Homo sapiens: one gene and its partners. The protein of the gene in region 3 purifies or fractionates together with the protein of the main gene of each other region. This does not show direct contact. Each region holds a gene or a part of one and is shown on either strand. Other genes may lie near its edges.

Region 1 (3,653 bases), on a different chromosome or scaffold from region 3:
CCTCTGAGATCAATGCGTTAGTACTTCTTCACCGTGAAACCCGAAAGGTCGGTTGATGTAGCCCTTGGAGCTGGAAGGGGCGAGGCCGGTCTATCTGTACACGAGATGGGAGAGCTGGGTGGACTTGTAGTTCAGCTGGTTGTTGGGCATGAACTTGTGCAGCTCACTCTTTTTGTAGCAGGGGTCATAATGGTAAGCGCTGAGGCAGGCGTCACATGAGACTTTTGAACACTGGGTGCAGGTGTTGGTGGCGCCTGGGCGGTTGCAGAAGCCACAGCGGGAAGTGGGCGTGGTGGAGGGCTTGGATTTGGAGTGAAGGTGCGGGAGGCGGTCGAGGCCCTGAGTCTGGCCTGGGTACTTCTCCCGCAGAGATGCCCCGTGGGCCAGGCTGTCATGAGTCGAGGCCTTGCTGGGGAAGGCGCTGGGCTTGGAAGCTGGAGGACAGGTGAGCAGGCTGTCACAGCGCTGGCAGAGGGAGGAGCTGCAGGACAGCCCGCAGCTTTGGCACTTGGAGAGGGCGGACTCTTTGGCAGGGGGCGAGCGCTTGTGGTAGAGGGAGTGGGCATCGTTTCTGAGCAGCCACACATCCGGCCGCAGAGCATCCTGCCGACGGTAGGTGGCCCTGGGTTCAGAGTCTGTGTACAGATCCACGTCATCCTGAGTGGAGAAGTAGGTACCGCGCAGCAGGGCCGGGCCGTTGCTGGGGGAGGCGGGTGGAAGCACATCCGGGCTGCCGTGGGGGGAGCTGGCCATGGTCAGCAGCGAAGGGGATGGGCGGATGATCTCATCCTTGAGGTCGTCCCCCACATCCGTTGCCACAGGCTCCTTCCGAAGACTCAATGAGGCCTTCAGGGGTGGCTTCCGGCTCTCCCAGTAGCTGTCATAGGCATCCACTGACCTCGAGGGCTTGGTCACGCGGGGCTTGTAGTAGTCCTTGGCCGCCCGCTCGCTGGCCGACTTCTGGAGTGCCACTCGTGACATGGAGGCCGTCAGGTGCTCCCGGCCCTCTGCCCGCCGCCGCAGGGCGTCCGAGCAGCCGCGCACATCCTCTGCACTGCTCTTGCGCTCGCTCACAATGTCCAGCTCGGAGTAGCCCTTGTCCTTCACTTGTGAGTGGATTTCTAGCATCTGCTCACACTCGACTTTGGCCAGAAAGAGCTCAAAGGAGACCATCTTCACCTGGAGGGTCTCCACGAGCTCTCTGAGCTTGTATGCAGTGCCCAGCTCAGGTGTGTAGCCCATGCAGCTCAGGATGGCTCGGATGTCCTCTTCCAGTAATGTCGACTTGACATAATAAACAAAAGGGCCCGTGTAGGTCTAGAAGGGAGGGAGTAGAAAAGAAAGGTGGGGTTTTCTGTCAGAGACACAAGACAGAGACTATGTCAAAGCAAAGGATGTCCAGCTCTGAAGTGGGGCGGCGGGGAGAGGGCAGGGCAGGGAAGGATCTCGACAGCCTCACCCTGCGGGAGGCAGAAGACGCAGGAGCTGGGGCTTGCTAAGCACTCAGGAATTGTGCAAGGAAATGACCCAGCAGCTCCTTTCTTTTGTTTGAGACGGAGTCTCGCTCTTTTGCCCAGGGTGGAGTGCGGTGGTGCGATCTTGGCTCACTGCAACCTCCGCCTCCTGGGTTCAAGCGATTCTCCTGCCTCAGCCTCCTGAATAGCTGGGATTACAGGCGCCCGCCAACACGCCCAGCTAATTTTTCTGTTTTTAGTAGAGATGGGGTTTCACCGTGCTGGTCAAGCTGGTCTCAAACTCCTGACCTCGTGATCCACCCGCCTCGGCCTCCCAATGTGCTGGGATTACAGGTGTGAGCCACCGCGCCTGGCAGCAGCTACTTTGTTAAACACAGGAAGCAAAACCTCTCGCTTCCTAGTGGGGCACGAAGACTCTACTCCATATGAAGAGAGAGCCTGGGCAAACATGGCTGAATAAAGGGGCCAGATTACAGGCAGAACGCGGTGACAATCAGAACGTTCCTCTCTGGTATTTCCATGAGGGGCTGAGTAACACGGCAGACTGAAGGGCCTGGCTAGGTGACAGCTCTCCTGTGCCATCCCCTCTCTTGATTACCACTCCTCCCATGGCAGAATGAAGAAGCCTGGCTAGGTGACAGCTCTCCTGTGCCATCCCCCGCGTGGTCTGATTCAGGATCCCTCTCTCAATTCCCCCTCCTCCTCTACTGTTCCCACTTAGTACAGAACACCCCTCAGCTTGCTGGGACCGCTGAGAAGCTTCCTAACTGCTCTCCCCATCCCTCCCACCTCCCCCCACCCCTCTACAGCCTACTTCCCATACCACAGCCAGAATGACCCTCTTCAGATGCAAGCCAGATCCCACACTGCCTCCTTCCCCGCCTACTCAGAACAAATCCAAGCCTTGCCCTGGGCCACAAGACCCTGCATAACCTGGCTGCCCCTGCCTTCCCAGCTTCTCTGCTTAAGGTGTGGCAGCCGGGCCAGAAACGGTTCAGAGGTGATGCTGGAGAGACGGGGAAGGTTCGGAGCCCGGAAGGATCTGAGAGCACAGGATGGATGGGATCAGACTGGCATAGCCTCTCAGGAGGGACTGCCAGGGGCAGGAAGAGAGAAGGAGGGCCTGTATGGAGGCTGCTCCAGGACCTCACCTTGATGCTTCTGAATTCCTTCTTCCACGGGTAGAGGAAGAGGTTGATGCCCACCGTCTCCAGCATGCTGAAGGCGCCGTGCAGAGCCCGCAGGCTAGAGGAGCTGAGCGAGCGCAAGGAGCTCTCCACCACCTCATAGAACTGGATCAGCCGGAATCGATAAAAGGGATCCACCTTGTGCAGGCTGAGCAGGGTTGAGGCTGCCACCCGCAGGCACTCATCGCTGCCAGGCCGCTGCCTGCTGGTGGTGGTATCCACTTTGCTCTCATGGAACTGCACGTACTTCCGAAATAAGTCATCCTTGAATTTAGTATCCATTGAACTGGGCTTCCCCATCCGATCGAGGGGGGCTACCTTATCTCCTCCATGGCTTCTGGATTAGAGGCAGGGACATCACTAAAAGCATGGACATGTTGCCGCCTGGACCAGCGGAGTGCTCTGGAAGGAGGGGAACAAGAAGCATGTCATTCCTCGATACGGTCGCGCTTCGGCTTCAGGTCGCTGAGGCAAAATGAACAGCAGAACTGGCCTGGGCTACACTGGACCCCAGCAGCACACTACAGAGCATGTACTACAAGCAGGGTTACAACAGAGGCCAGAGAGAGATGGACCTTGACTTTGTTGTGCTCACAAATGAAAAATACGATTAATATTCCTGAAAGAGAAATTCGGGTGAGTACAGCAGGAGCTCCTGTCCTGGTTTCGTTGGGGAAGGGCGAGTTTAGGAAAGCCCTCTTGAGACAGCAACAGACCTGAAGGATGAGGAGTCTGCCAGGCCAAGAGGCCGGGGAAGGAGTCGCAGTAGAGGAAGGCCCTGAGCTAATAGTACCAGAGGCTCCAGACACGTGACGAGCTTCACACACACTAACTCGCTTACTTTTTTTTTGAGATGGATCCTTGCTCTGTAGCCCAGGCTGGAGTGCAGTGGCGTGATCTCAGCTCACTGCAACCTCCGCCTCCCGGGTTCAAGCGATTCTCCTGCCTCAGCCTCCCAAGTAGCTGGGATTACAGGCACCTGCCACCACGC
Region 2 (3,653 bases), on a different chromosome or scaffold from region 3:
TATTTCAACAGTCAAGCGTTTTAAAATAATTGATGTGGTGTTATAACTACCTAGACTACTCATATAAAAAGTACTTCTGCCAATCGGTATTAACTTGTAAATTACGCCAAAACAAGGCAACTAGTTCAGGAATACCAACCTTTTCTTAAACAGGTTTGTTGTAGATTCTCCATGTTCCAGGTCTACAGTGTTTTATAGATGAAATCCCTGTTACCGTATATGCATGCCTGATAAGTTTAAAATGGGAGTCAAGAAACTCCATATGATTCTACTACCCAAAACTAGTGTGAAATTCCATCCCTGATGTGAGAGCTAAAATATTTATATTTGAGGTTTTTATTAGTGTTGAAAGTTTTATTAAAATTAGTGTTATAAAATTTACTACTCATTAATTGATTTGATCTGAGGTTAGCCTTGCACTTATTTCATAGTGAATACCTTTACTTTTCATTTAGTGCATTGACTAAGCTTGCACAGATTGGCAAGCACCAGGTTTTGCTGGTAAGTGAAAGGATGGGTGTAATAACTGGAAAATACTTGTTGGAGAAAACTTGAATCAATGAAAGGAAAAAATGCAATCTGATAGATTCTGAATATAGAAAAAATTGGACAAAAATTCATAGAAAAAAATGAGAATCTGATTGAGAAGAAGAGCTCATCACAGAAAAGCCAGCTTGATTAGAACAGGAAATATAATCCATGTACTTCAATTCAGGAAGATGGGGCAAATTGATAGGTTACATAATGTGGGTTTAAAAAATTATGTTTATTAGTTTGCTTGAGTTGTCCTAAAAAATGCTGTAGACTGCATGGCTTAAACTATAGAAATCTATTTTCTCATAGTTCTGGAGGCTAGAAGTCTGAGATCAAGGCGTCTGCAGGGTCATTTCTTCCGAGGCCTCTCTCCTCGTCTTGTAGATGGCTGTCGTCTCTTTTTATGTTCGTGTGTCTGTGTCCTAATCCCCTCCTCTTGTAAGGACACCATTTATACTGGATTATGGCCCACCCTAATGACCACATTAAACCTTAATTACCTCTTTAAAGACTCTGTCTCCAAATACAGTCATACTGTGAGATCCTGGGAGTTAGAACTTCAATATATGAGTTTTGGAGGGACACAGTTCAGCCTCACGCACAGAATCGAAGAGGCAATCAGGACCGGGCACGATGGCTCATGCCTGTAATCCCAGCACTTTGGAAGGCCGAGGCGGGTGGATCACCTGAGGTCAGGAGTTAGCGACCAGCCTGGCCAACATGGTGAAACCCTATCTCTACTAAAAATATTAAAAAAAAAAAAAAATAGCTGGGCGTGGTGGTGGGCACCTCCCAGCTACTTGGGAGGCTGAGGCAGGAGAATCGCTTGAACCTGGAAGGCGGAGGTTGCATGAGCTGAGATTGTGCCATTGCACTCCAGCCTGGGCAACAAGAGCGAAACTCCATCTCAAAGAAAGAAAGAAAGAAAGAAAAGGCAGAATGTCAAGATCCTCTTGAACAGTACTGTTCAGTAGAACTTTTTGTCATGATGAAATGTTCTGTTATCTTTGCTGTCCAGGGTAGTAGCCACCAGTCATGTGTGGCTGTTGAGTGCATGAAATGTGTCTCAAATTCAAAGCTGAATTTTTTACTTTAATTTTGAAGTATTACATTTAAATAGCCACATGCTAATATTTGGATAATACAGATCTTGACTGATCTATTTATTTGACATATAAAGAACTGAGAACCAAAGTGCTTGAGTGTTGGGTCCGAGGTTACCCAGATAATTACTGAATACTTGTGATGTAAGCAGTTATAAAATGCTTGATGGATTTTACTGTCTAGTGACTATAAAATAAAACCCACATAAATATAATAGAAAAACACCCTCATTTTAAAATTATTTCTCCTGCTATAAATATGTGGTAATCCATTTTACTTTATAATTGTGTGATTTTGACAAATGGATTTTAGGAGTAAATAATTGTTGTTTCTTCCAGTTAATTTTTAAAGGTGTTTGCTATTGACATGTAACAAGTGTTTAAATTAGTTCACTAAGATGTCAATCGTCAGATTGAAGTTTCCATTTAAATAAAACGCATCTCTATAGGGGAAAAACTGGTAGGTGGTTTAAAGAAAAATCTATAATTCAGTTAGAGCAGGTGAATCCATGCATGCTTTTTTCAGAAGACATGAATCTGAAAAATCATTTCACAAAGGAAGAATAAGAAAAGAGCTTTCCTTTTCAGGATAGAAATGGATTGTTAAGTTAATAGCTTAGCTTGTTGCTTGATTCTATCCTTTCATGTTTTGATGATATTTTCTCACTTAGTAAACTTTAGGAATATTTTTAACTTTTCATTTTAAACTAATTTTAGACTTATAGAAAAATCACAAAAACTGTACAGAGTGCCCGTATACACTTCACACAGCTTCCCTTAATGTTAACATCTTGTGTAACCATAATACAATGATCAAATCCAGGGCAGTAGCATTGATACAATACTACTAACTAACCCTCAGTTTTCACCAATGTTCCCTTTCTGTTCTAGGAACCTACCTAAGATCCCACCTTGCATTTAACTGTTATTTCCTGTTTCCTTCATTTTCTTCACATGTTTGAAGAGTTTCAGTTATTTTACAGATTGTCCCTCAGTTTGGGTTTATATGATATTTTCTCATTGTTTGACTGAAGTTACGCATTTATTGCAAGAATACTACAGACACAATCTTGTGTCATTCTCTGTACATCATATCAGGGGGTTCGTGATGCTAATATGTCATATTTCTGGTGATAAACTTTAGAAATCTTGGTGATGAAAACTATGCTTTTTAAATAAAATATATGCTAAAATTACTATAAAATATCAACCCATCAAATTTACCCTAGAATACAAATGATTTATCAAACCCCCAAAAAATGGTGATTGAAGAAAGCTATAAGCCTCACTAGTTAGTTAATGGGATGAGGTTAGTAGAATTTAACTAATAGAAATAAACTTCAATAATGAGAAAGAGAAACAACCTTTTTCTTTCTAATGAGGCAATTCTTCATTGGAAAGTTAGGAAAGGAATTTTCAAGAGGAGTCTTTCCAACTAAAAGAATTGTCTTGTAGTAGAAAATTGTTTTAGTTGAGGTACTTAACTGTAGTAACTTATCAAGTAGAATATTAAATGAGGAAAAACGGTGATTGCTTTAGTCTTCTTCTATTTATGACACTGGAATTATATCAGAAGTCAAGTCTTTAGAACCAGTTTGTAGGCCTAGCCTTTCCTATGAAATCAGTTTATTGTAGCAAATGTTTGTATTTTTGACATTTTAAGGTCCTGAATAAGATGAAATAAATCAAAAACAATTTCAAAAGAAATACTACATTACATATCCCAAACCTTATGACATTTAAGCATCCTCATATGTTTTCATTAAGGAATAACATTGTACTTTAGGGTTTGACACACGTAAAAAATGTAATACATTGTTAGGTTTTTTTAATAGATGTTTTTCAGGCTATAATGTTTATTCCTTAAAAGAGAATGGGTGGAAACTCTTCTGTAGATAACTGTATCTGTCATAATGAAGGTTGGAAACATTCCACGTTAAGCCTGGTACTTGAGTACTTTTTATATTTCTTCACTTGCCAGGTTTTCTTTACTAGGAATATTTTGGTAAAGTATTT
Region 3 (3,653 bases):
GAATTTTTAGCAGGGCATGGTGGTATGCGCCTGTAATCCCAGCTACTACTCAGGAGGCTGAGGCAGGAAGATCACTTGAACCTGGGAGGCAGAGGTTGCAGTGAGCCGAGATCATGCCATTGCACTCCAGCCTGGGTGACAGAGTGAGACTCCGTCTCAAAAACAAAAAATAATTTCAAGATGCTGACAGTAGAGCATTAAACAAACACAGGGCTTATCTAAGTGGGGTAGGAATCAGGACTTGGAACGAACCTGAGGATCAGCTAAAAAGTTCCTGGATAGAAGCCTTTCCAGAAGACATGGCCACCAGTGTGCCACATCAGTTTACTATCGCCATGGCAACATACAGATCTTACCACCCCTTTCCATGGCAATGACCCTATGAACTGGAAATTACCACACTCATCCTAGAAATTTCTGCATAAACTGTCCCTTAATTTGCATATAATTAAAAGCGGGTATAACTATGAGTTTGCAAAACTGCCTCTAAGCTGCTATTCTGGGCAGAGTGCCTATGGGGTAGCCCCTTTCTGCAAGAAGCAGTCTCTCTGCTGCTTACTGTACAATGCCACTTCAATAAAAGTTGCTGTTTAACACCACCAGCTTGCCCTGGAATTCTTTTCTAGGCCAAGCCAAGAACCCTCCTGGGCTAAGCCCCAATTTGGGGGCTTGCATGTCCTACATCATAAGTGAGGGGCCCTTTTAAGAGTAGGGCCTTGTGTGACTGCACAGGTCATATTTTCATGAAGCTGGCCCTGATCTTGATAAACATTACTTGAATTAATAAATGCCTTCTATTGATAAATGATTTCTGTTTTCCTTTCACATTATCTGTCAATCATATAAACTTAATCAAGAGCTTTTAAACGGAGTAGTTCCTCAAAAAGATGGCACAGAGGCCACTGCCAGAAAATAAGAAACTAGGGTATCAAAACTGACTGAGACGACTTCAGGGCATTATTGTGCACTAATTGGAAAACAATGATTACCCTGCCTTTTCTTAAGCAAACACCATATATTTGTACTTACTATTTATTCAAATACATTATTCTTATTCTTTTAGATACAAGTATTGTGATAAAAATAGCTACCAAATAAACAGTTGTGAGTATTGTCAGAATTATTGTTAGGTATTTCACATCGTTAAATGGATTCAGGAGCTTTATCAGGAAAACCACTAGAAAATACAGTTCAGTGACGACCACCATATTAAGACTGAAGTCCCAATTTCCTTAACTTATGTTATGGATTAAAAATACCAAAATTTAAAATAATACATCTTTATAATCCATAGAAAGCCTAAAAATCAATAATCAGATAAGAAAACATTATGTGAATATCAAAATGGCTTATATGAAAAATAACTTATATAACTTACTTTACCTAATATATAAAATTGGACATGATTATAGCTAACCAGAAAGAGTTTACAAGGTTTAACGTTTATTGCTGAAGAATAATGTTGCAAATTAAAGGTGTCAAATCTGAAATGTCAGTCCAGCTCTTGATATTTAAAATGTGTAATTAACACCTCTACCTACAAAACAGGGTTGGATTAGCCCTGCCCTGAGGAGCTCTCATTCCATTCATGGTATAATCCATTATTTGGCATTAGTTATCGTAACAATTTATGTATTATTACAAGCACACTCAGACTCACAAAAATTGCAGCCCAGGCTTATGCATTCATTTAAAGCTTTAGAGAAAAAAATATTCATTTCAGCATCTCCCAATGTTGTATTGTTATTGTATCTATGCATATTGACAGACCTTTCATCATCATAAGAACTCCTTGTATCCAGGTTATAACCTCGGTCTCTGACCCCAATCCTACTATGCTCAACTCTGTCTAAGCTGTTTGTTCTAGCTTAGAAATAACTTCAAATATGCCATCTTACAAATAGGCATCTAACCACGTTAATGATGATTTTTACCTGAGACAAAAGTAAAGAAATATTTCCTAATATAGAAAAGAAAGGCTTCAGTGTTTTTGTTGTTGTTTTGTTGTCATCCGTTGCAAAGCTGCTTTCTACAAGACGCAGTAAAAATAGCAAGTTGTAAGGAGTCAGAAAAAATCCAGGCTTAAACTCCAGCTCTGCCACTACCCAACCGATTAGGCTTGGACAAGTTAACTCATCATTCTAAGCCTGCTTCCCCTATCCATGCGCTGAGCTTGGGAAAAGGGTAGGTGAAAGGGCCTATGTGTCTAGAACCAAACTTCCTAACTGGCCTTTCCTCCTTCCTCCTACCCTTTCTAAAATGTCTGGAGCTGAACTTCCTAAATACACTTTTCTCTTTCTTTCTTCCTCGTCACTTTTGTCTTGCTGAGTGTTTGGATGGTGTCCAGTGGGCAGCATATTTAATACTCAGCTTTGGGCTGACATACCAGGCAGAGATGAATTCACTTTTCTAGGGCCAAGCTTTCAGCCACAGTAATTTGCTTACATATGGGGGGAATTGAGCAAGTAAGTACATACACTGAAGATAAAGGTAGCCAGATTTCCTGCTGTTGAACACACATATGCACACTTGTTTATACACAAAAATTTTCTAGGGTCTCTGCTGAGAGAGGCTAGTAATGAACACTTCTAGTGCTCAGAGTTTTTTCTAAATGCCACTTTCCACTAAAGAAACCAAAATTCGTGGCAGAGAAGGCTGATTCCAAGGCAGGTCAGGAAAATACAAGATAAGCATGGCACATTGTAGTGCCAGAAAATAAGGAAGTGATGAAAGAATGATGGAAACATGTCATAAAGGGGCTTCTATTGGCTAAGTCTAAGAAAATTTGAAATCAGAATTAAAAAATAATAGTAATAAATTGATTAAAATTTGAAGTCATGAGTCTATATTGATGTAAACGAATAAACAAGAAATATATGGTATAGCAAGGAAAACCCTACCTTACAGTAAAATGCCAACTAATAAATCTAGAAGGACTGATAACATTAGAAAATTGTCATTTGGCATCCATCACAGTGATAACAGATTCAAACAAGAAGCATCAATGGAGAAATCTGGCAGGAGAAAATATGATGAGAAACAGAATATTTACAGTCTCAAAGCTTCTCCCTACAAAACACAAAGATTCTCCCCACAAAACACACATTGCCTATTAATTTATGAATGTGACATATTTGCTAATTCACCTTGTAACAGAGAAACCTGGCAGACCCAATCTTAAAGAAACAGAAGTTAACATCATGAAACCACGGAATAAATTGAGATCATGTGATGCCTAAGAGGACTCACTGATTGAAGCACAGCATCTCCTCTAAGATATTCCTGTCAAGGGGTCACAAACATGAGGAAACATCAGACAGACCTATATTGAGGCACATTTAATCACGTAACCAGCCTGTATTCCTCAAAAATGTCAAAGTCATGAAAGATAAGGCTGGGTGCGGTGGCTCATGCCTGTAATCCCAGCACTATGGGAGACCAAGACCACCTAAGGCCAGGAGTTTGAAACCAGCCTGAGCAACCCAGCAAGATCTTGTCTCTCAAAAATAAAAATAAAAATAAAAATAAAAAAGGAAAGAAAAAGACAAGAAAAGACTGGCAACTATTCCAGATTGAAGAAGACTGAAGAGGCATGACAACTAAAATCAACGAGTAATCCTGGATTAAATCCTAGATCTAAAATGGAAATGATT

What was found.
Region 1: the proteins of STXBP4 (region 3) and SPATA2 purify together in Homo sapiens (affinity purification with mass spectrometry; one large-scale study listed by BioGRID and IntAct). This does not show direct contact.
Region 2: the proteins of STXBP4 (region 3) and HOMER1 purify together in Homo sapiens (affinity purification with mass spectrometry; one large-scale study listed by BioGRID and IntAct). This does not show direct contact.

The regions. Positions count from the first base shown.
Region 1 is NC_000020.11:49,905,529-49,909,181, forward strand, and holds part of SPATA2 (spermatogenesis-associated protein 2), read right to left. Parts: intron 3,065-3,653; 5' UTR 2,963-3,064; coding exon 2,627-2,962; intron 1,318-2,626; coding exon 91-1,317; 3' UTR 1-90.
Region 2 is NC_000005.10:79,402,512-79,406,164, reverse strand, and holds part of HOMER1 (homer protein homolog 1), read left to right. Parts: intron 1-3,653. UniProt on the Homo sapiens protein: Postsynaptic density scaffolding protein. Binds and cross-links cytoplasmic regions of GRM1, GRM5, ITPR1, DNM3, RYR1, RYR2, SHANK1 and SHANK3.
Region 3 is NC_000017.11:54,971,662-54,975,314, reverse strand, and holds part of STXBP4 (syntaxin-binding protein 4), read right to left. Parts: intron 1-3,653. UniProt on the Homo sapiens protein: Plays a role in the translocation of transport vesicles from the cytoplasm to the plasma membrane. Inhibits the translocation of SLC2A4 from intracellular vesicles to the plasma membrane by STX4A binding and preventing the interaction between STX4A and VAMP2.